4 linked regions of the Homo sapiens genome follow. The protein of the gene in region 2 purifies or fractionates together with the protein of the main gene of each other region. This does not show direct contact. Each region holds a gene or a part of one and is shown on either strand. Other genes may lie near its edges. The genes, in order: HP1BP3, H1-8, LLPH and NMNAT1.

The links.
Region 1: the proteins of H1-8 (region 2) and HP1BP3 purify together in Homo sapiens (affinity purification with mass spectrometry; one large-scale study listed by BioGRID and IntAct). This does not show direct contact.
Region 3: the proteins of H1-8 (region 2) and LLPH purify together in Homo sapiens (affinity purification with mass spectrometry; one large-scale study listed by BioGRID and IntAct). This does not show direct contact.
Region 4: the proteins of H1-8 (region 2) and NMNAT1 purify together in Homo sapiens (affinity purification with mass spectrometry; one large-scale study listed by BioGRID and IntAct). This does not show direct contact.

What each region holds. Positions count from the first base shown.
Region 1 is NC_000001.11:20,770,308-20,773,807, forward strand, and holds part of HP1BP3 (heterochromatin protein 1-binding protein 3), read right to left. Parts: intron 3,304-3,500; coding exon 3,144-3,303; intron 767-3,143; coding exon 623-766; intron 1-622. UniProt on the Homo sapiens protein: Component of heterochromatin that maintains heterochromatin integrity during G1/S progression and regulates the duration of G1 phase to critically influence cell proliferative capacity.
Region 2 is NC_000003.12:129,540,189-129,547,219, forward strand, and holds the start of H1-8 (histone H1.8), read left to right. Parts: upstream 1-2,986; 5' UTR 2,987-3,030; coding exon 3,031-3,118; intron 3,119-7,031. UniProt on the Homo sapiens protein: May play a key role in the control of gene expression during oogenesis and early embryogenesis, presumably through the perturbation of chromatin structure. Essential for meiotic maturation of germinal vesicle-stage oocytes.
Region 3 is NC_000012.12:66,122,694-66,129,085, forward strand, and holds part of LLPH (protein LLP homolog), read right to left. Parts: coding exon 6,203-6,392; intron 1,326-6,202; coding exon 1,147-1,325; 3' UTR 1-1,146. UniProt on the Homo sapiens protein: In hippocampal neurons, regulates dendritic and spine growth and synaptic transmission.
Region 4 is NC_000001.11:9,965,409-9,971,800, reverse strand, and holds part of NMNAT1 (nicotinamide/nicotinic acid mononucleotide adenylyltransferase 1), read right to left. Parts: intron 4,421-6,392; exon of another isoform or gene 4,343-4,420; intron 1-4,342.

The sequences.
Region 1 (3,500 bases), on a different chromosome or scaffold from region 2:
GCAATTATTATTTCTGTTATTCCTTTTTGTTTTCAGACAGGGTCTCACTCTCACCGAGGCTGGAGTGGTGAGATCGTAACTCACAATAGCCTCAACCTCCCAGGCTCAAGCGGTCCTCCTGCCTCTGCCTTCCAAGTACCTGGGACTAGAGGCATGTGTCACCAAACCCTGCTGATTTTGTATTTTTTGTAGAGAAGGGGTCTTGCTATGTTGCCCAGGCTGGTCTCGAACTCCTGGGCTCAAGTGATCCTCCCAACTAAGCCTCCCAAGGTGCTGGGACTACAGGTGTAGGCCACCATCCCTAGCCTCATTTTTGCTGTTTCAGTAGTAGGATTCCTTACCTCTTTTTCATGTTCAGTGCTACATGATTTCAAGCACAAGCAGCCCCCCAAAAAATATCCAATTAAGAGCAAAGTAAGCTAGAAAAAAGTTACACTATCTTAATGGCACCAGCATTTTCGAAACCTAGCCTCAGATAATTCAACTAGGTTAAACTTAAGGAATTTCATCATCATGAAACTTATTTTTAACAAAAAAGGCACAAAAAGCCTAAATGTTACTAACTGTAGACTTAAAGCTAATACACAATGAAATGATCTTACTACTAACAATTGTGTAATACCTGTTTGATGACTCCTCTATTTAATTCTCTTTTCAGTGCTTGTTTAAGGAGATAACCCCTTCTCTCCAGCTCCAGAGAAGGATACTTATGGATGATGTATTTTCGAATAGCAACCACTGATGCACCACTCTTCTGGAAGCATGCCTAGAAAAGATTTATTAAACTAGTTGTTTTTTTTTATTAGATAGAGCCTGACATATATTTTCAAAATAAATTATTTTGGAAGTGAATTTGATGATAGATGACAAAAACGGTAGGGAAGAATGAACTTCAGAAGACTTCAGTTCATAATGACTACAGAGAAGTAACAGAATTACTAAATATTTCTACTACAATTTTAAATTGTTCAAAACAGCCTAAGAGACCATACTGAACACGAACAACATTCTATGTATAATGAAGAACCTCTTTCCATTTTAATTCCATTCTGTATTTAGAAGATGAATCTTTGGCATCAAAATGAGAAAAGCAGAACAAACCTATCACTTACAGGATCACAGATCTGTCCCATTTTAAGGCACGAGCTTAAGGAATGAGCATGCCAGGACATTTCCCTGAAGGCTCTGTATGAATGTCAGCAGAAAGAAGAATCAAAGATAATCTGAATAAGTGGCATAAAAATGGGTTTACAGATGGCAAAGTGCTGAAGGAGAGTTTTGGGTAATAGTGAAGGTGTTCTATTTGAATTTAATGTGCCCTCTTCCATTTCCATCCTATTTTACTTATACTCCATTTGACTAATGCACCTGGAAGAATTAAGTAGCTCATTATGTCACAAAGGCAGCAAATACTTAATTTTTTTCAAATGCTTAAAATTTTGTTTTCCAACTGGTCACTGACTTGAAATCAAATACTTTAAATTTTGAAACACACAAAAGTAGCATCTGTCATTTATCTAATGAGCTAGTCCATCAATTTTGTACTGCCACAGTGTCTATTAAATCAATGTAGCACTTATTCATTCTCATTGGATAAGAACTTCGTTGAATGTTTTTATACATTTTGACAACAAAGAAAAATAACTCACAGGTAGATGGTCCAGAAAAGATTGCACAACACGAAACAAGTTGTATTAATATGGGTCATGTAATTCAAGTCTATGTCTCTGAACTATTAATGACCTACTGAGGTTTACTCCTGATCTTAAAAGAAAACACAGAGCAAAGAAAATCAAGCAGAAAAGAACACTAATGCTGAAACAAATAATCTTTTGCTCCACCAATCCGACAGTGAGATGGTAGTAGACATCATGATTCCTGTTCAATACAGAAAATGGTATCCATGGTCTGAAACAATAATTTGTCATATTGCATGGAATACACATTATCTATATAAAATCAATCATCTCCATAAATATGCACAATTATATTCAAACCATTCTTTAAGCCAAATTGATATTGTTTTAATTTTTTATTTCACTATTTTAAAGTTTCAGCCCTTTTTCCATCCTCACTATGATGCTGCTCCTTCAAACCCAGGCTGAGTGGTCATCAAGTGAAATCCTTGAAGAAAGGCTATACAAAGAACAGAGATTTCACTACAGTGAGGTAATCTAGACCAATAAAGTTTTCTTAATGAGGTGAGAGCATAAGAAGTCTTGAAGGAGTAAAGGGAGAAGTCTGAAGGCAAACCCTTTTTCCAGTTTATGTGTTAGTGCTATCTTCTCATATTCTGAGAATGACAACCAGGCTGCTCCTTTTCGTACACATCCCCCCTTTTCTGGTTAAAATCATCTGTATCCCTGTCTCCCCAGTCCTGCCTCAGATCCTAACAACAGGGTCCCTGAAAGATGGGTCTGTTCTAACTCCTCTTATCATCTGATCATATGAACTAAACAAGGCAAAATTAAATGAAAAGACTTATACAATAAAGGCAATGTCAAATTAGAAGATAACCTTTAAAAATTAAAATAGGAAAACTACATCTAATGAAAGTCAATGAAATCATAAATCTATGTAAGGAGGATAATTTTTGTAAGCATTTTGGAATGTCTAGGTAATAAAGCAGTGTTTATTAACAGGGTTCAGGTGTGAAAGATAACCACTACCAAGATCACTTAGCTTTAGAAATGAACCTAGAGATATTTTTTAAACAAAAATTCTCAATATTTTTCAGTTACTGAGTCACAATTAGATTTATAAGGGCAAGGACTTTGCTAGCCTTAGTTAATTCACCACTAGCAGGGGCGCCCAACAGAGGAAGGTAGTCCTTAAATGTTTGTTCAATGAATTAACATTTTCAGCCTTCAAATAAAAACTGTACTTAATCGATAAACTGCATTTAAAAATTCTAAAGTTAAAATATTTGCTATATTAAATATAATTTTTTTAAAAAAATTAACAGTGTTCACCAAATGTGATTATATTAGAAAAACATGAACTTATAATGACTTTCCTCTCTTTAAAACTCCTTTAGGAAGCAGAACAAGATTTATGATGTCTAGACAGATATATGCCATTTTCAAATAAGAAAAAAATGAACATAATAAATCTAAGATGAATTGCTTGAAATAAAAACTTGCCTTAATGGCCTCAGTTAAGATTGCATCCATCTTGGGACGTGGGGAAGAAGCCATCGGTGTTTGTTTCTGGGCCCTGGCTAGCTGGCTGGCAGAAAGGGTAGCCCAGGAAGGAATTGTTTTTTTCACTTTCTTCTCCTTTTCTTTAGACTGATCTTTCTCACTTTAAAACAAAGAATTGTTATTATAGAAGATAAGCTCTCTAGAAAGACGTATAAAGTCAGAAGGAGGAAAAGACCAGGGAGGGATAAAAATTAATGCTTTAATTTATTTACAGGCTAAGATGACATGTACCATAAGCAAAATTTTACAAAATAAATCTTCTTTAAAAACTGGGTACTATAAATGAATTAAAAAGGT
Region 2 (7,031 bases):
GCTAGCTAGGAGCTAGTTAACATGGCAATGGGACTGGCATACCATCATTTCTGCTATTGGTCAAAGCAAGTCATAAGATTTAAGGAATCCACTCAGACTTAAGAAATGTGGGAGGGGCCAGGTGCAGTGGCTCATGCCTGTAATCCCTACACTTTGGGAGGCCAGGTGGGAGGTCACTTGAGGCCAGGAGTTCAAGACCAGCCTGGGCAACATGGCAAGACTCCATTTCTAATATATATACATACATATATATACACATATATATATGTATGTGTGTGTGTATATATATATATATATATATATATATATATATATATATATATATATATATATATTTTTTTTTTAATTAGCCAGGCATAGTGGCATGTGCCTGAGTCCTAGCCACTTGGAAGACTGAAGTAGGAGATCACTTGAGCCCAGAAGGTCGAGGCTGCAGTGAGCTATGATTGCACCACTGCACTCCAGCCTGGGCGACAGAGTGGAACCCTGTCTCAAAAAACAAACAAACAAACAAGAAATGTGAGAGGGGTTGCAAAGTTACATTGCAAATGGGCAGGAGTGAAAAATTGGGGGCAGTTCTGCATCAATTCAACACACACAGAGGAGACAAAAGGGGCCCGATATCAGCACATGGCCCATTCCAGGAGCCGCAGTGTGGGTGAATTGTGGGATTCAAGCGGGGAGGAGGCTCCTTAAGTCAGACTGAAGAGCATGAACTTTCACCCACGGGCAGTGGGGAGCCATGCAGGATGCTAAGCGGGGGAGTGAAATCTGACTTCACTTTAGAACACTTTGATGACCACAGCCTCCCCGAGTCCAGATCTCTGGTGATGGAGAGCCCTCTGGGAAAATTCCACAATAAAGAGACTACCTAGAGAAGAATGTATGCTGTTTAAAACCCATCCCTTCCTCAGAGGTAACCACTTCTACTATTACCTTGGTATGAATCCATTCAGAACTTTTTTCTACTGCTTGTGACTGGTAAGATAAAAAAACAAAAAAATTTTTTAAAAATTAAAAAGAACTATTGTGCCTTCACACACACACACACACACACACACACACACGCAAGTTTTGTCTTCTCAGTAGTTGGGGTGTACTCTCCGATACATTCTGGTTCACTCCTTTTCACTACTGCATACTACTCCACTGTGCGAATAGGCCACAGTTTACTTGTTCACTCTCCACCTGATGGGCATTTATGTTGTTTTGAATTTCTGCTAAGATTGAAATAAACATCTTTGCACGTAAGTGTATATGTTTGTCTCAGATCTACGCCTAGAGTGGAATAGGTGGGTTGTGGAGTGAGTCCCTCCTTAGTTGTATGAAACATCGCTGAATTGCTTTCTAAGGCGGCTACCAGCTCACTCCCCACCCCCCAGCAGCTATACTTTCCTTGAATCCTAGTCACTCACTATTGATAGACACTTACATCTTTGTCATTTTGCTGAGTGTGAAATACAGCCTCATTCTTGTTTGTTTTCTTTTCTTTCCCTCCCCCTTTTTTTTGGGGGGGGCAGGGTCTTACTCTGTAGCCCAGGCTGGAGTGCAGGGGTGTGATCACAGCTCCCTGCAGCCTTGACCTCCCAGGCTCAAGCAATCCTCCTGCCTCGGCCTCCCAGGTAGCTGGGACTACAGGTGCACACCACCATGCCCAGCTAATTTTTGTATTTTTTGGTAGAGACAGGATTTCACTTTTTTGCCTAGGCTGGTCTTGAACTCCTGGGCTCAAGCGATCCTCCTGCCTCAGCCTCCCGAAGTTCTGGGATTACAGGTATGAGCCACCATGCCTGGCCTCTCATCCTTGTTTTAATCCATCTTGTCATTTTATATTATATTATATTATTTTATTTTATTTTTATTTACTTATTTTTGAGACACAGTTTCGCTCTTGTTGCCCAGGCTGGAGTGCAATGGCTCGATCCTGGTTCACTGCAGTCTCCAGCTCCCAGGTTCAAGTGATTCTCCTGCCTCAGCCTCCCAAGTAGCTGGGACTACAGGTGCACACCACCACGCCCAGCTAATTTTGTATTTTTAGTAGAGATGAAGTTTTACCATGTTGGCCAGGCTGGTCTCAAACTCCTGACCTCAGGTGATCCGCCCACCTCAGCCTCCCAAAGTGCTAGGATTACAGGCCTGAGCCACCGCACCAGCCCACCTTGTCATTTTAGATGGCTGCAGAATATTCTGCAGAAAGGGTGTGATTTAGCCAGGCCTTGGGTGTTTGCTTGGAAAGTTTTTTTTTTTTGTCTGTCAATTTGATGGGAAAAAGTAGTATTTCACCATTGTTTCAATTTGAATTTTCTCAAATGCCAAGGAAGTTGAGTGTCCATTTTCCTGTTTCTGTTCCTCACCCTTTAGGCTGGTGAATTGCCTGTTTATATTCTTTGTCCATTGTCCCAGTGGATGTTGTCCTTATCTATGAAGACTTTTGTGAAGCATCCTCCGTTATTGATTTATTTCTTTAAAAACAAAACCAAAGGAGGGCATAGGCCCAGAGAGCCTGGCTGGCCTCAGAAGGGGCTACTCTGATTGAGGGGCATGTGCTCTGGGCAAAAGTAGCAGTTGGGCTGCCTCCAACTGCTACTTTTTGAGAAATTGAGGCCAGCAGTGGCGTGGGGCAGCCCATTGCCCACCTGGTAGGATTAGAGGGCCGCCTCAGCGGCCTCCCTGACAACACAGGTGACCCCAATTCCTCATCAGCATCTCCAGCCCCTGGTGGGCAGAGGGCACAGGCGAGATCAAGCATCTCAGCTCCCAACATTGCACCATGGGGACTGAGACCCAGAGAAGTCAAGCGACACCCCCAAGCTTACACAGGAGTGGGTAGTCCAGCTGGGGCTCCCTACAGAAGGCAGGATGCTGTGCCCCATTCCACACCTCCAGCCCCAGTCAGCAGCTTGGAGCACTCCCAGCCCAATCAGGGCTGATTGGAGTGGTGGGGGTGGGCTGCTGGTATATAAGCCTAGTGGGCAGGCCCAGCAGCCTCACACCCGGGTGAGGGGTCTGCTGGCTGCACCTGTCGGTCTCATGGCTCCTGGGAGCGTCACCAGCGACATCTCACCCTCCTCGACTTCCACAGCAGGATCATCCAGGTCTCCTGAATCTGAAAAGCCAGGTGAGCAAGAGGAGGCAGCTCCTCCCTCATCCCTGCGAGCCCACTCCCTGGGTTGCCTTTGATGCTCCACCCCTGCTTCTCGTTCTTTCCCAGCCTGGCCCCAGCACCTACCCAGCACCCACCCAGCACTCACCCAGCACTCACCCAGCACCCACCCAGCACCAAGCTGCTGAGCTCAACTGCCTTTTGGCTGAAGAGCTGATCTACAGGTAGCAAGGCCAGGTAGGGCCTGGGGGCTGGGGCCGGCCTCGCTCAGGGAAGAGCCACAGGGCCTTCCAGCTGGAGCCCGTTTCCTGCTGGGACCGTAGCCCGTAGCCAGGCTGCAGCTGTGGGCAGCTAGTTGGAGGGACTGGGGCAGGAGCATTTTATGCAGGGCTAGGCATTCCGATTTTCAACCAAAAAACACCTCAGGGTTTATCTGGACATGAGGGTGCACCGAGGCAAACCAGGCCCAGTTCACTCCCTCGAGGACCTCCCGGTCTGATGGGGAAGCCTGGCCCATGGCTTGTTGCTGTTTGCTAATGTGATGTGTGCTTCAGTGGCGGTAATCCAGAGCTGGAGGAGCCCAGAGGAGTCCTCTAACCCACTCTGGGAGGTCAGGGAAAGCTTCCTAGAAGAGGTGACCCTGAAGGATGGGTGTGCCTCAGCCGGGGGAAGTGTTCTATTTGCCAAGACACCTAGGGAGATAGGGAGGGGGTCCAGGTGCCGAGAAGTAAAAGGGCAGAGTTAACTGGGAAGTCAGAGGTGTCCAAACCAAGGTGCATTTTGAGCCTTGAAGGATGAGTGAGAGCAGCCTGCATGACCGGGAGGAGAGAGGCAGCCCAGGCAGAGGAAACGGCATGGGCTAAGGCCCAGAGGCCAGCGCACCAGCAGCTTGTCTCGGAAGCTGCATCTTCCTTCTGGGAAGGAGGGAAGTGCTGGGGCAGTGCTAGGGGAGCAGTGGGAGGGCCTCCAAGGCGGTCTTCAGTTAGGTCAACTTTTATCTTGAACAGGGAGCCATGGACGGTTTCAAGCAGGGAGGTGAGGGGTGTGAGATACAGCGAGGAGAATGCATGCGGTGGGGAAGAGGCAGTGGGGAGGAGGCTGGGGCTGGGGAGTTGGAGAGGAGAGGCCAGAATATGGAGAGAAAAGCCTATGGGGAGGCCTCGAGTGGGTGTGGTGAGGAGGAAAGGGCCCAGAATGCCCCCAGTTCTTGCTTGGATGTTGGGTAGGTATGGGCAGTGGGGGCATGGGGCATTCCTGGAAGAGAGAGGAGGGGCAGATTTGGGGGGCTGAGCTCTGTTCTGGACATCCTGGTATACAGCAGGCATGGAATAGCTGCCGAATGAGGGGCTGGGATGAGAGGGAACAGACCTGAGGGAGGACTCCTGGGGGTGGCTCTCTGGGACAGACATGGTCTGGGGGAAGCAGAGGAGGGGTTGGAGCTGCTCGTGAAGTCAGGCCAAGCGAAGACCCTTGGGAAGCCCTGTAGCACTGCAGCTGGGAGGGCTCAGACCTCCTTAGAGGCCCCCGTCCCCACTGTACGGATGGGAAGACTGAGGCCTAGAGGGAAGAATGAAACTCCCGAGAACCCGGGAGTGACCCAGGACTACACCAGCTCAACGCCTTTGGCCCCCAAATGAATATTCCCACACTGGGCTCGTCATGGCCAGGACCCAACAGGGGTCGAAGTGATTAGGTCTCTTTATAATTTTGCTCTAGATCTAGAGTTTCATGGTTTTTTTTTTCTATTGAAAAAAAATTTTAATATAGCCAATTTTTTTTTTTTTTTTGAGACAGGGTCTTGCTTTGTCACCCAGGCTGGAGTGCAGTGGTGTGATCTCAGCTCACTGCAGTCTCCACTTCCCAGGCTCAAGCAATCTTCCCACCTCAGCCTCCCAAGTAGCTAGGCCTATAGGCACACACCACCACACTCTGCTCATTTTTAAAGATTTTCGTAGAGTCGAGGTCTCACGATATTGCCCAGAATTTAAGTCTTTAAATTCTGCAGATTGATCAGAAATCAACATTTCCATTCACCACATTTAAATCCGGTTTCATATTTAAATCCCTTTTATGCATTTCATGGTGACTGACAACTTCTCATGCTTCCCCCACCCTTGATCCCACTTCATTTGCAACTATTTTATAACACCTTATTGAGAAATAATTCCCATACAATACAATTCACCCTTTAAAGTGTACAATGGCTTTTGGTATACTCAGAGTTGTGTATCCATCTCTATAATCAATTTTAGAATATTTTCATCACTTCAAGAAAACCAGTACCCATTAGCAGTCACTCTCCACCCCCACTCCCCAGCCCTGGCAACCACCAATCTGCTTTCTGCATCTATGGACTTCTTATTCTGGACATTTCATATAAATGGAATCAGACAGTATGTGGCTTTTTCTGACTGCCTTTTTTCACTTTGCATGTTTCAGGGCTCCTCCATGTCGTAGCCAGGGCTTCACTCCTTTGTATGGCTGGATAATATTCCACGGGATGGGTAGCGACCACATTTTGTTCATCCATCTGTCAATCATTCATCATGGATGTTTGGGCTGGTTCCATCTTTGGGCCGACATGAATAGTGCTGCTATGAACATTCATGTGTACATTTTTGTGTGGACATGCGTTTTCATTTCCCTCAGGTATATACCGAAGAGTGGAATTTTTTGGTAACTTTTTATTATGAAAACTTTCAGGGCCGAGCATGGTGGCTCATGCTTGTAATCCTAGCACTTTGGGAGACTGAGGTGGGAAGATAGCTTGAACTCAGGAGTTTGAGACTAAACTGAGCAATGTAGTGAGACCTGTGTCAAATAACAATAACAATAATAATAATAATAATAATAATAATAATAATAATGATAATAATACAAACATTAGCCAGGCGTGGTGGTGTGTGCCTGTGGTCCCAGCTACTTCGGAGACTGAGGCAAGAGGATCACTTGAGCTGGAGAGGTCAAGGCTGCAGTGAGCCATGATTGTGGCACTGCACTCCAGCTTGGGTGACAGATTGAGACCCTGTCTCCATAAAACAAAACAAAAAACTTTCAAATGGATACAAAAGTAGACTACCAAATGGTCTGTAACTCCCTTCCACTGTACCCGTCACCCAGCTCCAACAGTCACCATCTTGTGGACACTCTTGTTTCATCTGCTGGGTTATTTCAAAGCAAATGCTGGATTTATGTATCATTTCATCTGTAAATATCTTTTATAATATTTACCTTTAACAGATAAGAGCCTTTTAAAAAGCAATTGTAATACCATTAGCACACTTGAAACAATATTATCCCTAATATCCGATATTTCCTTCCAGTGCTCACATTTATCTGTTGCCTTTCTTTTTCCAGTTGGATTGTTCAAATCCTGCTCTGGGAATGAGCATTTGGTTGAGAGGTTTCCTAAGGACCTTTAGTCCATAGGGTGCCCCTCCCACTTTTTCTTTCCCCCCTTATTTGTGGAAGAAACCCGGCTGTGTGCCCTGGAGAGTCTCTCAGTCTGGGTGCCTCTGAGAATGTGCACATAGCCCCCGGAGGTCCTGTAAACCCACAGTTACGAAATTCACCCAATTTAGATTGTTTTTCTAAAGGAATACTCCATTCTTTAAAAAGAGAGATTTGGCTGGGCACGGTGGCTCAAGCCTGTAATCCCAGCACTTTGGGAGGCCGAGGCGGGTGGGTCATGAGGTCAGGAGTTCAAGACCAGCCTGGCCAACATGGTGAAACCTTGTCTCTACTAAAAATACAAAAATCAGCCAGGTATGGTGGCAGCGCCTGTAATCCCAGCTACTTGGGAGGCTGAGGCAGGAGAACTGCTTGAACCCAGGAGGTGGAGGTTGCAGTGAGCTGAGATCACGCCATTGCACTCCAGCCTGGGGACATAGAGAGACAGTGTCTCAAAGAAAAAAAGAGAGAGAGACTC
Region 3 (6,392 bases), on a different chromosome or scaffold from region 2:
GAACCCTGTAGGACTATTCTAATCCTAAACTAAAATCTTTTGTAAATCTTCAAGTATGTAGCATTTCCCAAATCGATGTGAACACAATTTATTTTTTTTAACCAAGCATCCAGAGGAAACTGATACTGAAGAACACACTCCGGGGAATGCTGCATGATACTATATTAGGCCACACAATATTAACACTAAAGAACATTAAATCAGTTTCCATGAAAAACCTGAAATGTTCTAATTTCCTAAAAAGCATACTGATTTGTATATGTTAATATTCTACCTAAAATTAAGATAAGAAAACATTTAATTGAAATCTGGTCTTCTCTAGGACTAAAAAACCTTAAGCATACATGAAAGAAAAAAAAATCAGACTTGAAGATCTACACACAAAATATCTTTTATTCTGTGGAATCAAAGCTCCACACAAGTACTTTATAAGATCCATTATTTTTTTTTTTTTTGAGACAGAGTCCTACTCCATTGCCCAGGGTGGAGTGCAGTGGGGCAATCTTGGCTCACTGCAACCTCCATCTCCTGGGTTCAAGCAATTATCCTGCCTCAGCCTCCCGAGTAGCTGGAACTACAGGTGCGCGCCCCCATGCCCGGCTAATTTTGTATTTTTAGTAGAGATGGGGTTTCACTGTATTAGCCAGGCTAGTCTCGAACTGACCTCGTGATCCACCTGCCTCGGCCTCCCAAAGTGCTGGGATTACAGGTGTGAGCCACCATGCCCAGCCCTAATGTAGTATTTTTAAATGATATGATTATACAACAACTTTCTTTAAAATCTAAGTTCACAAAAATTTGTCAGTACATCATCTGTTTTATCTCTATTGACTATAATTACCAGTTGTAAGAACAATTCTAACCATATTAATACCTGACAGAACGTTGAGGCCTGATTATAACTGGATATTGGGTAGCATCCAGTTAAAGTATCAGTAGAGCTTGGATGTATCAAAGAAAATATTTTATTCAAGTTCCCAAAACAAACTTGAGGAGTTATGCTGGGTTTGAATTGAAGAAAAAAGGCCAAGTTAAAATAGGAAAACAAATGGTTTTCATTTGGTGGCAGTTGAAATCAAAGTATACATGTGTATACATTCTAATCCGTCATCTATCCCATGTGGCATTTTCCAAGGTTTTAAGAGTCTACCAGGCCAAACCCTTTGCCACTTTCACTGCTTTTGCTTTGCTTTTCCCCTTTCTTTTCTCTCGCTTTGCCTTCAGCCTTTTTCTTTGCCTTTGGTTCATCCATATTGGGTACTGTCCATGCTGGTCTAGAAGAGTCTTTTTGTTTCTCTTAATATCAGTCTCCATTTTCATGTCATCTGCATAAAAAGATGGAAAAACTATTAACACCATGTATGAAAAAAACCACCCTGTGAAAGCATATTAATGCACTGAGAACATCAGAACATTAGAACTGAAGGTAGACCGAAAATAGAGAAGAAAAAAACTTTATAAAGAATGTTGGCATGACTGTCCTTCCTTAGAATAGTAATGTTAAATAGGAAACATTTAGGATGCATGGCTCTGAGTTAGTACATTAGTAGATATATGGTTCTGAGCACATGTGAGTTACAACAACATTTCTCATATTAAGTGATTCCTTGAGTTCAGTAAGCATACCTACACTTCTAAGGGATACACCTTAGATGTAATGAACTGATTAGGAATGACTGGCCATTTCTTAAGAACTTGAACTAAATTATAATGAACTGAGAACGAACTTCTAATGAACTCGATGGAGTAGTCAGCAGCAGGGTTGTAATGGCAGAGACAGGCACTCAACAGAGAAGACCTGGACACATCCTGGGGCTGGCATACTTTTCCTAGCTAGGTAACACCCAGAGATCCAGCTCTACTGATAGGAGACTTGGCAGGAAGCTCAGTGCAAACATGCTGTGGTACACCTATCACCTTCTCCACTGTGAAGGACATGCTCAGAGTCCCTCACTGGGACCTCCTTATCAGGATACACAAAGTCTTCTATTATCTCGACTACCTGGCATTATATTAGATATTTGCCATTGTTTCCACAGTATCTAGAATAGTGTCTGGTATATAACAGCCACTCAATAACTAGGTGTTGAATGATTATTTTAGGTGCTGTTCTAGTTTATGGGGATATAGTGGTCCATATGAACTCCTAGCCCTCACGGAGTTTACAGTGTTCTGTTGACGGGAGAATAACACAGCAAACAGAAAGAAAACCTCAGCCAGGTATAGTATCTATAGGCATTTGTAGTCTCAGCTATTCGGGAGACTGGGGTGGGAGGATCATTTGAGGCCAGGAGTTCAAGGATGTTGTGGGCTTGGTCACGCCTGTGAACAGCCACTATACTCCAGCCTGGGCAACAAAGTGAGATCCTGTCTCCCCGCAAAAAAAAGAACTGGTAGGCGCTGGTAAGAACATGTTAAGATAATGAGGTTTTTAAGCATGGCAGTGATATAAACTGATTTACCTTCTGAAAAGATCACACTGGTGGATATGTAGAAGATAAATGAGAAGGGAACAAGAGCGGAAGAGAGAAGTAAAAAGGCTCCTATAATAGTACAGGCAAGAGATGACGGCCTTCTGAATCAAGGTGAAAGCAGGAAAAAAATGGATACAGATTTCTAATGTATTTTTGGGACAATCAGTAAGACTTGCTAATGGTTTAGATGTGGGGAATAAAGGAAAGAGGAATCAAGGATGACTACTAGGTTTATGGCTTAAGAAATCAGGCAGGCAGTTGAAAGAGTAGAAATAAGGAAAAACATGAACTTGAGGGTAGAGATGAGAGCCAAATTGATAACAAATAGATTACTAAATGGGGAGACTCCCTCAGTCTCAGTCTCACCACCCTTTAGCTCCTAAAATATCTAAGAATAAGGGCATCCAGAATTCCCCAGGCAGGACATAAGATAATTTCTCTCTGGGGATGATGAGGAAAAAAAAAGACTTAACAGATTCTGATACAGGAGATCTCCGAATAAAACCTCCTGGAGCCATTCCAAATCTTCTATACATCTAGCAGTTGACAGACCCTCTCCCACACCTTGTCTCCCTCCAGCTTCCAATCATCATTGTAGTGCCACACTTTTAAATACAAACAATGACCACTGATCACCAGACATTTGAGAAAAGCTTCTAATATGAAAGAAAGAGACAAAAGTAAAGGAATGGAAGGGCTTGGGAGGGAATTCCAAGAGGAAAGACAGATAATACATACCATAAATAAAAATTTCAAAAGCAAATTGTAATTAATACCCTTAGGAGAAGATATATGCCCATTAAGAACACAGAGTTGATGACTCAAGGGGCATTTACAAAACACAAAGAACACAAAGCTATGAAAAAGGAACAGTAGGCCAGGCGCAGTGGCTCACGCCTGTAATCCCAGCACTTTGGGAGGCCGAGGCGGGTGGATCACGAGGTCAGGAGATCGAGACCATCCTGGCTAACATGGTGAAACCCCGTCTCCACTAAAAATACAAAAAATTAGCCGGGTGTGATCGCAGGCGCCTGTAGTCCCAGCTACTAGGGAGGCTGAGGCAGGAGAATGGCGCGAACCCGGGAGATGGAGCTTGCAGTGAGCCGAGATCATGCCACTGCACTCCAGCCTGGGCGACAGAGTGAGAGTTCATCTCAAAAAAAAAAAGTAAAAAAAAAAAGAAAAACTTTTAGAAATTAAAAATATAAGAGAAAACCAAGTAATAAGAACCAGAATTCAAGGTCAAGGAAATTAGAGGGTATAACAAAATAAATAGAAAACAGGAGAGAAAAGAAAACAGGATCAATCCAAAAGAATCAAGAGTGGATGTGGGCATCTGGTATCTAGAACATATAAAGAACTCTTAACAACCCGATAATAAAAAGACAAACAACGTAATTGAAAAACGAGGCAAAAGACTTGAGTAGACCTTTCTCCAAAAAGATAATACAAATGGTCAATCAGCATATGAAAAAATGTTCAGCCGGGTGTGGTGGCTCACACCTGTAATCCCAGCACTTTGGGAGGCTGAGGCAGGTGGATCACTTGAGGTCAGGAGTTCAAGACCAGCCTGGCCAACATGGTGAAACCCCAACCCTACTAAAAATGCAAAATTCAGCTGGGCATGGTGGCACACGCCTGTATTCCCAGCTACTTGGGAGTCTGAGGCAGGAGAATTGCTTGAACCTGGGAGGCAGAGGTTGTGGTGAGCCGAGATCATGCCACTGCACTCCAGCCTGGGCAACAGTAAGACTCCATCTCAAAAAAAAAAAACAAAAAACAAACAAACAAAAACCAAAAAACACTTCATTCAATGTCATTAGTCATTAGGAAACTTCAAATCAAAATTACAATGAGAATCTATTTCATACCCTCGAAGATGGCTATAATCCGAAAATGGAAAACAAGTATTAGTGAGGATGTGAAGAAACTCAAATACTCAAACACTGCAGGTGGGAATGTAAAATAGTGTGGCTGATGTGGAGAACATTAAAAAGAATTACCATATGACCCAGCAATTCCACTTATCAAACAAAACCTTGTGCACCTGAATGTTCACAGCAGCACTATTCACAACACCCATAAGGGGAAAGAAATCCAAATGCCCAGCAACCGTTGAATGGATATGAAACGTGGTACATGCAATGGACTATTATTTAGCCTTAAAAAGAAAGGAAGTACTGATATATGCTACAATGTGCGTGACCTTCAAAAGCACCATGCTAAGGGAAATAAGCCAGGCACAAAGGTCTCATTATATATGATTCCATTTATAAGAAATATTCAAAACAGGTAAATTCACACATGAAAAGAGCATATTAGTGGTTGCCAGAGGCTGGGGGTAGGAGGAGGAGAGACAGACTTCTTAATGGGTATTAAGTTTCCTTTTAGGGTGAGGAAAGTGTTTTGGAACTAGAGGTGATGGTTGCACAACATGAATGTACTAAATACCACTGAACTGTACACTTTAAAATGGTTAATTTTATGTTATGTGGATTTTGCCTTAACAACAACAAAAAAGAACCAATAGGGAGGGGTGATGTGTGTGTGAGGAAATGAAAACAGCAAGTGAAGGCAAGTGTTTCAAAAAGTTTCAAGGACAGCTGAAATAAAGCAGCAGATTGAGAGAACTTGAGATCAAGGGAGAAATTTTTCTTTCTTTCTTTTGACATTGAACATCCCAGAACACATCTATGCTGTTGGCAATGACCCAGTGGAGGAGACTGATAAGGCAGATGCATGAGTACAACCCCTGAGAATGTTAACGGTGGAGAGGATTCAGAACACAAGTGGAGAAACTGGCCTTGGAGAGAACATTAATAAAAAAGGGAAAACAGACTATACAACATTTGAATTCTTATAGACTTGGGTAGTGGAAAGATGAGGATATTTCTTGGTTGGCCCCTTTTTCTCACAGAAGTTGAAGTAAAATGCTTTTTGTAATTTTTATTCATACAGAGTGGGAGAAGGATGAAATGGGAAGAAGAAAAAGTTAAAAACAGCCATTTTTAAAGGGAAAAAACCCCCTAAGGTTGGGAGATTGAGAAATACTGCTCTTTTCCTTGGGCATAAGACATCAAATACATGTATTTCTATTTTAAAGTCTGGGTATTGCAAATACTTAATTTAGTTTGCTGCCAAATTGGTGCATTAAATGTGCAAAAAGCAGCATTATATATATATCCTCCAACTTCATGATTAAGACACAAAGGTTCCTAGAATCTGTCAAAATGAAATAGTGAAACCCTGTGATTTTCAGGATAATAGTATAAGGGCATAGGACTCATAGAATGGGAATTAGATCTTACAAAGAGTAAAATGAAGACCTATGCTGCCTAGGCCCTGAGTGAACTGTGTACCCTTCCAACCAGAGTATGCCTAGATTTGTCTACTCCTGTAGAACTGTTTATTCCTGAGACATGGAGGCTATTGTATAAGCACCAAAGACCCACTCTAAATAATCCAAAACATATGTATATACATGAACAGGCTTGACAGAATTTTTTTTGTTTTTAAATGAAGCGCAGAGGGGCTGGGCACTGTGGTTCATGCCTGTAACCCAGTGCTTTGGAAGGCTGAGGTGGGAAGAATCCGCTTCAGCTCAGGAATTCAAGGCTGCAGGAAGCTATAATCACACCACTGCACTCTAGCCTAGGTGACAGAGGAAGGAGACCCTGCCTCAAAAAAAAAAAAAAAAAAAGAGAAAGAAAAAGGAGAAGCACACTCACCTTTTTCATCTTTTACCTCACATTGCATTTTCTCTTGGCAATGTTTGGGTTTGGGTACCACCACAGTTGCTATCTCTTGAACATCTTTCATTAAAACATCACCGTCTAGTTTGAGAATACTTTTAAGCCTGCTGGCCTCCTTTGGGGCATTCTTTTTTCTCTTTTCAGCACGCATCTTTCTTTTCCACTT
Region 4 (6,392 bases), on a different chromosome or scaffold from region 2:
GTAGAGATGGGGGTCTTGCTATGTTGCCCAGGCTGCTCTCAGACTACTGGTCTCAAGCAACCCTTCCACCTCAGTCTCTCAAAGTGCTGGGATTACAAGCATGAGTCACCACGCCCAGCCCAGTTATAGGTCTTTTGATGTCCTTCCACATTCTCATTCCCAATAGATGGATTAAAAGTATTTGGCTTTGGCTGGGCGTGGTGGCTCACACATGTAATCCCAGCACTTTGGGAGGCTGGGGCGGGTGGATCATGAGGTCAAGAGATCAAGACCATCCTGGCCAACATGGTAAAACCTCGTCTTTACAAAAAATACAAAAATTAGCTGGGTGTGGTGACAGGCACCTGTAATCCCAGCTACTTGGGAGGCTGAGGCAGGAGAATCACTTGAACCCAGGAGGCGGAGGTTGCAGTGAGCCGAGACTGTGCCACTGCACTCCAGCCTGGCGACAGAGAGAGACTCCATCTCAAAAAGAAAAAAAAAATTGGCTTCAATCATTATGCTAACTCTAAAAATGTTTCCACATCTCCATCCCTCCTTTTCAATGTGAATCTGCAACTTCTACCATGAAGAGATGGAAGTGACTTCTCCACATTTTTTGACTTGCTTTGGGCAAAAGAATGTGGCACAAGTGTTAGTGTGGAGGATGCCAGAACATGTGGGAGAGCACCGATGCTCCCACTGATAGACAACCACCCCACATGTGGGGAACATAGCCATCCCCGACCAGCCAACTACAGTCCATCTGCTCAGACACATAAGCAAACCCAAGTGAGATCAACCAAACCTGGCTCAGATCGTCAAGCCAACAAGCTGACCCTAGTCTCAAAAACAAAAAATTAGTGTTCATTATCATATGTCACTCAAGTTTTGTGATTGCACTATTGTGGCCACAGTTAATTAATACAACAATATTATCATCTACCAAATACAGCATTTTTGCCTTTTAGTCAACATGATAGTAACATCATAACTTTCCACTAAATAATAGAATATAATTTACAAACCTCTTTTTCATATCAGTTATTCCACTGATCCTTCCATAACCCTAATGAAGTAACATAAGGCATCCAATTTTAGGTTTTTATTAAAATTTCTTTTTTTTTTTTTTGAGACGGGAGTCTCACTCTGTTGCCCAGGCTGGAGTGCATTGGCGCGATCTCAGCTCACTGCAAGCTCCGCCTCCCAGGTTCACACCATTCTTCTGCCTCAGCCTCCCGAGTAGCTGGGATTACAGGTGCCTGCCACCACACCTGCCTAATTTTTTGTATTTTTAGTAGAGACGGGGTTTCATCATGTTAGATGGTCTTCATCTCCTGACCTTGTGATCCGCCTGCCTCAGCTTCCCAAAGTGCTGGGATTACAGGCGTGAGCCACTGCGCCTGGCCTAAAATTTCTTATTCAACTAATTCATATATATAGATCTAGAACATCACAGGGTAAAAAAGGCCCTTAATGAAAACCAACAGCCATCAATCATATTCCACTCATCATCCCTTCCATCCAACCACTTTTAACTTTTTCAGCTATTTCTTCTGGTAGTTTCTACCATAACTCTACATTATGTGCTTATAATGCCATTTCTTAATTTATCCAACTATAACAGTGCCCATTGACTTTATGATCTATAAAGATTAGCCCTCATACCCTTTGACTACCTTCTCCCAAACTGCCCAATATAGTTTATCTCCAGACTATGTTGAAAATCATCTTCTCTCACAACTTCAAAGGCATTACTTCTAGATTCCAATGTTAATAGCATGAAATCCAAAGCCACTTCTAATTCCGGAGCTTTTGAATGTCATTTTTTTCCTGTCTTGAAGCATGTAAGGTCTTCTCTTTGTCCGCAGTGTTCTGAAATTTCACAGTGCTGTCCTCTAGTGCAGCTTTGTTTCTATCCATCATGCTGAGCACAGGGCAAGCAGGTCCTTTCAGTCTGGAAACTTGTAACATTCAGTTCTAGAAAATGTCCTTGAGTTCTTTCATTGATGATTTTCTGCCTCCCATTTTATCTGTTCTTTTGAAATGTCTATTATTTATTTATTTTTTTGAGACAGAGTCTCCCTCTCTCACCCAGGCTGGAGTGCAGTGGCACGATCTCAGCTCACTGCAACCTCCACCTCCCAGGTTCAAGCAATTCTCCTGCCTCAGCCTCCCAAGTAGCTGGGACTACAGGCATGCACCACCACACCCAGATAACTTTTGAATTTTTAGTAGAGATGGGTTTCACCATGTTAGCTAGGCTGGTCTCGAACTCCTGGCCTCAAGTGATCCACCCACCTCAGCCGCCCATGAACCACTGTGCCTGGCCTGAAAATGTCTATTATTTAGAGCTGAAGCATCTAATCATTTTTTCTGTATTTTCCACCTCCTGCCTTCATGCTCTAATTTCCTGATAGCCTCAACTTCATCCTCCAATCTGCCTAGTTTTCACTTCTGCCATTACACTCTTAATTTCCAAGAGCCCTATCCTCTGAATACTCCTGTTTATGGTATTCTACTCATTTCCCCAACAGATTATCATCTCTATTTCTCTACCAATATTCATGATATATTTTAAAGTTTCTTCAAAAAGAGCTGATGGGACAGGCTGAGTGGGTAGGTAGGGCTTGTGCACAGGGGCCATAACTGTTCAGTAACCTGTCAGTACCGCAGGTCTTTTTGCTTGGATTAGTCAGACTCTACAAGAAAGTATCCTACAATTTCCCGCCTATATAACAGAAGAGTTAAGAGCCTATGCTCTGATATTAGGCTGCCTGGCTTCAAATTGCAGCTCCAACGGCATGACCTTGGGCAACCTAACCCTAACTTAACCTTCCTTTTGTGCCAGGTTTTTTCTTTGGCTTTTTTTTTTTTTTTTTGAGACAGAGTCTCGCTCTGTCACCCAGGCTGGGGTGCAGTGGTACGATCTCAGCTCACTGCAACCTCTGCCTTCCAGGTTCAAGCAATCCTCCCTGCTTCAGCCTCCCAAGTAGCTGGGATTACAGGCACGTGCCACCACACCTGGCTAATTTTTTTTTTTTTTTTTTTGAGACAGAGTCTCGCCCTGTCGCCCAGGCTGGAGTGCAGTGGCATGATCTCGACTCACTGCAAGCTCCGCCTACTGGGTTCATGCCATTCTCCTGCCTCAGCCTCCCGAGTAGCTGGGACTATAGGTGCCCGCCACCACTCCTGGCTAATTATTTTTTGTATTTTTAGTACAGACGGGGTTTCACCATGTTAGCCAGGATGGTCTTGATCTCCTGACCTTAAGTGATCCACCTGCCTCGGCCTCCCAGAGTATTGGCATTACAGGCATGAGCCACAGTGCCCACCTTGTCCCAGTTTTTAATCAATCTTAAAAAGGAGAAAATAATACTACCTACCTCCTGATTGTTGTGAGGATTAAATGAAACAATACAGATCCAAGACATAGAACTACATTTGGCAGGCCAGGCGCGGCGGCTCACGCCTGTAATCCCAGCACTTTGGGAGGCCAAGATGGGCAGATCACGAGGTCAGGAGATCGAGACCACCCTGGCTAACATGGTGAAACCCCATCTCTACTAAAAACACAAAAAAATTAGCCAGGCGTGGTGGCGGGCACCTGTAGTCCCAGCTACTCGGGAGGCTGAGGCAGGAGAACGGCGTGAACCCAGGAGGCGGAGCTTGCAGCAAGCCAAGATCGTGCCACTGCACTCCAGCCTGGGCAACAGAGCGAGACTCCATCTCAAAAAAAAACAAAAAAAAAAACTACATTTGGCAAATAGCAAACATGCTATGAATATAGCTATTATGAATGTTGCAAATTATGTTACTAGAATTGTCTTTTGTTTTTTGATTTTTGAGACAGTATCTCACTCTGTTGTCCAGGCTGGAGTACAGTGGTACAATCTCAGCTCACTGCAACCTCCATCTCCCAGGCTCAAGTGATCCTTCGACCTCAGCCTCCCAAGCAGCTGGGACTACAGGCATGCACTGGCTAATTGTTTTTTTGTATTTTTTGTAGAGATGGGGTTTTGCCATATTGCCCAGGCTGGTCTCAAACTCCTGGGCTCAGAATCTCGAAGCGAACCTGTCCACTTTGGCCAATTCCAAAGTGCTGGGCTTACAGGTATGAGCCACTGTGCTCAGCAAGCAATTTTTTTTTTAATCAACAAAACATCAATTTCAAATGGTTTAATTTACAATTGCTATTCTATTCAATCTGTTTTTTTCCCAGAGGATTTTCTTTCTGGAACTCTCCTCCTCTTATCCAGATGAAAAATCTCTATTTGTGAAGCTATTATTCTGAAAACTTCTTCATCTCTTTCCTGGGTTAGATCCCCTATTTATTTCTCGCTTTGCTTTCTAATCTTTCTGGAGCGTATCCTCAAGCGTTTCATGATAAAGGGTTGATCTCTCATACACCCTTTATCATGAAACTACTTGAGAATATGCTCCAGTAGGATTCGTGGGAGATCAAGTAAGTTTGATAGGCGCATGGGAGATCAAGTAAGTTCGACGATGTTGTTATTCTTCCTTCAATTATTAATGGCTTGAGAAAATTCTTTTCAACTCAATAATTTCAAATAATTTTTTTTTTGCGGGGAGCCGGGGGGACTTAGTTTCACTCTGTCACCCAGGCTGGAGTGCAGTGGAAAGATCTTGGCTCACTGCAACCTCTGCCTCCCAGGTTTAAGCAATTCTCCTGCCTCACCCTCCTGAGTAGCTGGGATTATAGATGCCTGCCAACATGCCCAGCTAATTTTTGTATTTTTAGTAGACACAGGGTTTCACCACTTTGGCCAGGTTGGTCTTGAACTCCTGACCTCAGGTGATCTGCCCGCCACGGCCTTTTAAAGTGTTGGGATTACAGGCTCGAGCCACTGTGCCCAGCCCAAATAATTTTTGAAATTATTCTTTTAAGATTATAAAGGCACTTCTTCATTGTTTGCTGGCATTCAACATTGCTGTTGAAAGTCTGAGGTCATTCTAATCCTTGTTCCTTTATGTGTAACCTGCTTTTACTTTCTAGAAGATGTGTAGTATATTATCTTATCCCTAGTACTCTGGAATGCCCAGTGATGACAGTATCTTTTTCATTCATTGTACAGAACCTTTTAAATGCTGCCTACTAGTTTTCAACAAGTTAAAAAAATAACTTTGCTATTGTAAAGGTTTTCAAATAAATATTTGTATATAATTATATATACATACTTTTTTTTTTGAGACTAAGTCTCACTCTGCTGCTCAGGCTGGAGTGCAGTGGCAAAATCTTGGCTCACTGCAATTTCCATCTCCTGGGTTCAAGCGATTCTCCTGCCTCAGCCTCCTGAGTAGCTAAGAATACAGGTGCCTGCCACCATGCCCAGCTAATTTTTGTATTTTTAGTAGAGATGGGGTTTCACCATGTTGGCTAGGCTGGTCTTGAACTCCTGACCTCAGGTGATCTGCCTGCCTCAGCCTCCCACAGCGTTGGGATTACAGGCGTGAGCCACCGCGCCCGGTCAATAATATTTATAAATAATTTCTTTCTGTTTTGAGATGGAGTCTCCCTCTGTTGCCCACGGTGGAGTGCAGTGGCACGATCTCAGCTCACTGCAGCCTCTGCCTCCCAGGTTACAGTGATTCTCCTGCCTCAGCCTCCCAAGTAGCTGGGACTACAGGCATGCCCCACCATGCCTGGCTAATTTTCGTATTTTTGGTAGAGACGGGGTTTCACCATGTTGGCCAGGCTGGTCTCAAACTCCTAACCTCAAGTGATCTGACTGCTTCAGCCTCCCGAAGTGTTGAGATTACAGGCGTGAGCCACCGTGCCCAGCCAAATACTTCTGAATAAAATTTTTTTTTTTGAGAAAGGATCTCGGTGTGTTGCCCAGGCTGGAGTCCAATGGCATGATCACAGGTCACTGCAGCCTCTGCCTCCTAGGCTCAAATGATCTTCCTGCCTCAGCCTCCAAGTAGCTGGGACCACAAGCACATGCCACCACACCTGGCTATATTTTTTAAATCTTTTGCAGAGACAGGGTCTCACTATGTTGTCAAGGTGGGTCTCAGATTCCTGGCCTCCTGCCTCAGCCTCTCAAAGGGATTACAGGCATGAGCTACTGTGCTTGGACTTCAAAATAAATATTCTTGGCCAGGTGCGGTTGCTCACACCTGTAATCCCAGCACTTTGGGAGGTCAAAGCAGAGAGATCGCTTGAGGTCAGGAGTTCAAGACCAGCTTGACCAACATGGTGAAACCCCATCTCTACCAAAAATACAAAAATTAGCGAGTGTGGTGGCGCACACATGTAATCCCAGGTACTTGGGAGGCTGAGGCAGGAGAATCACTTGAACCTGGCAGGCAGGGGTTGCAGTGAGCCGAGACTGCACCACTGCACTCCAGCCTGGGTGACAGAGCGAGACTCTGTCTCAAAATAACAACAA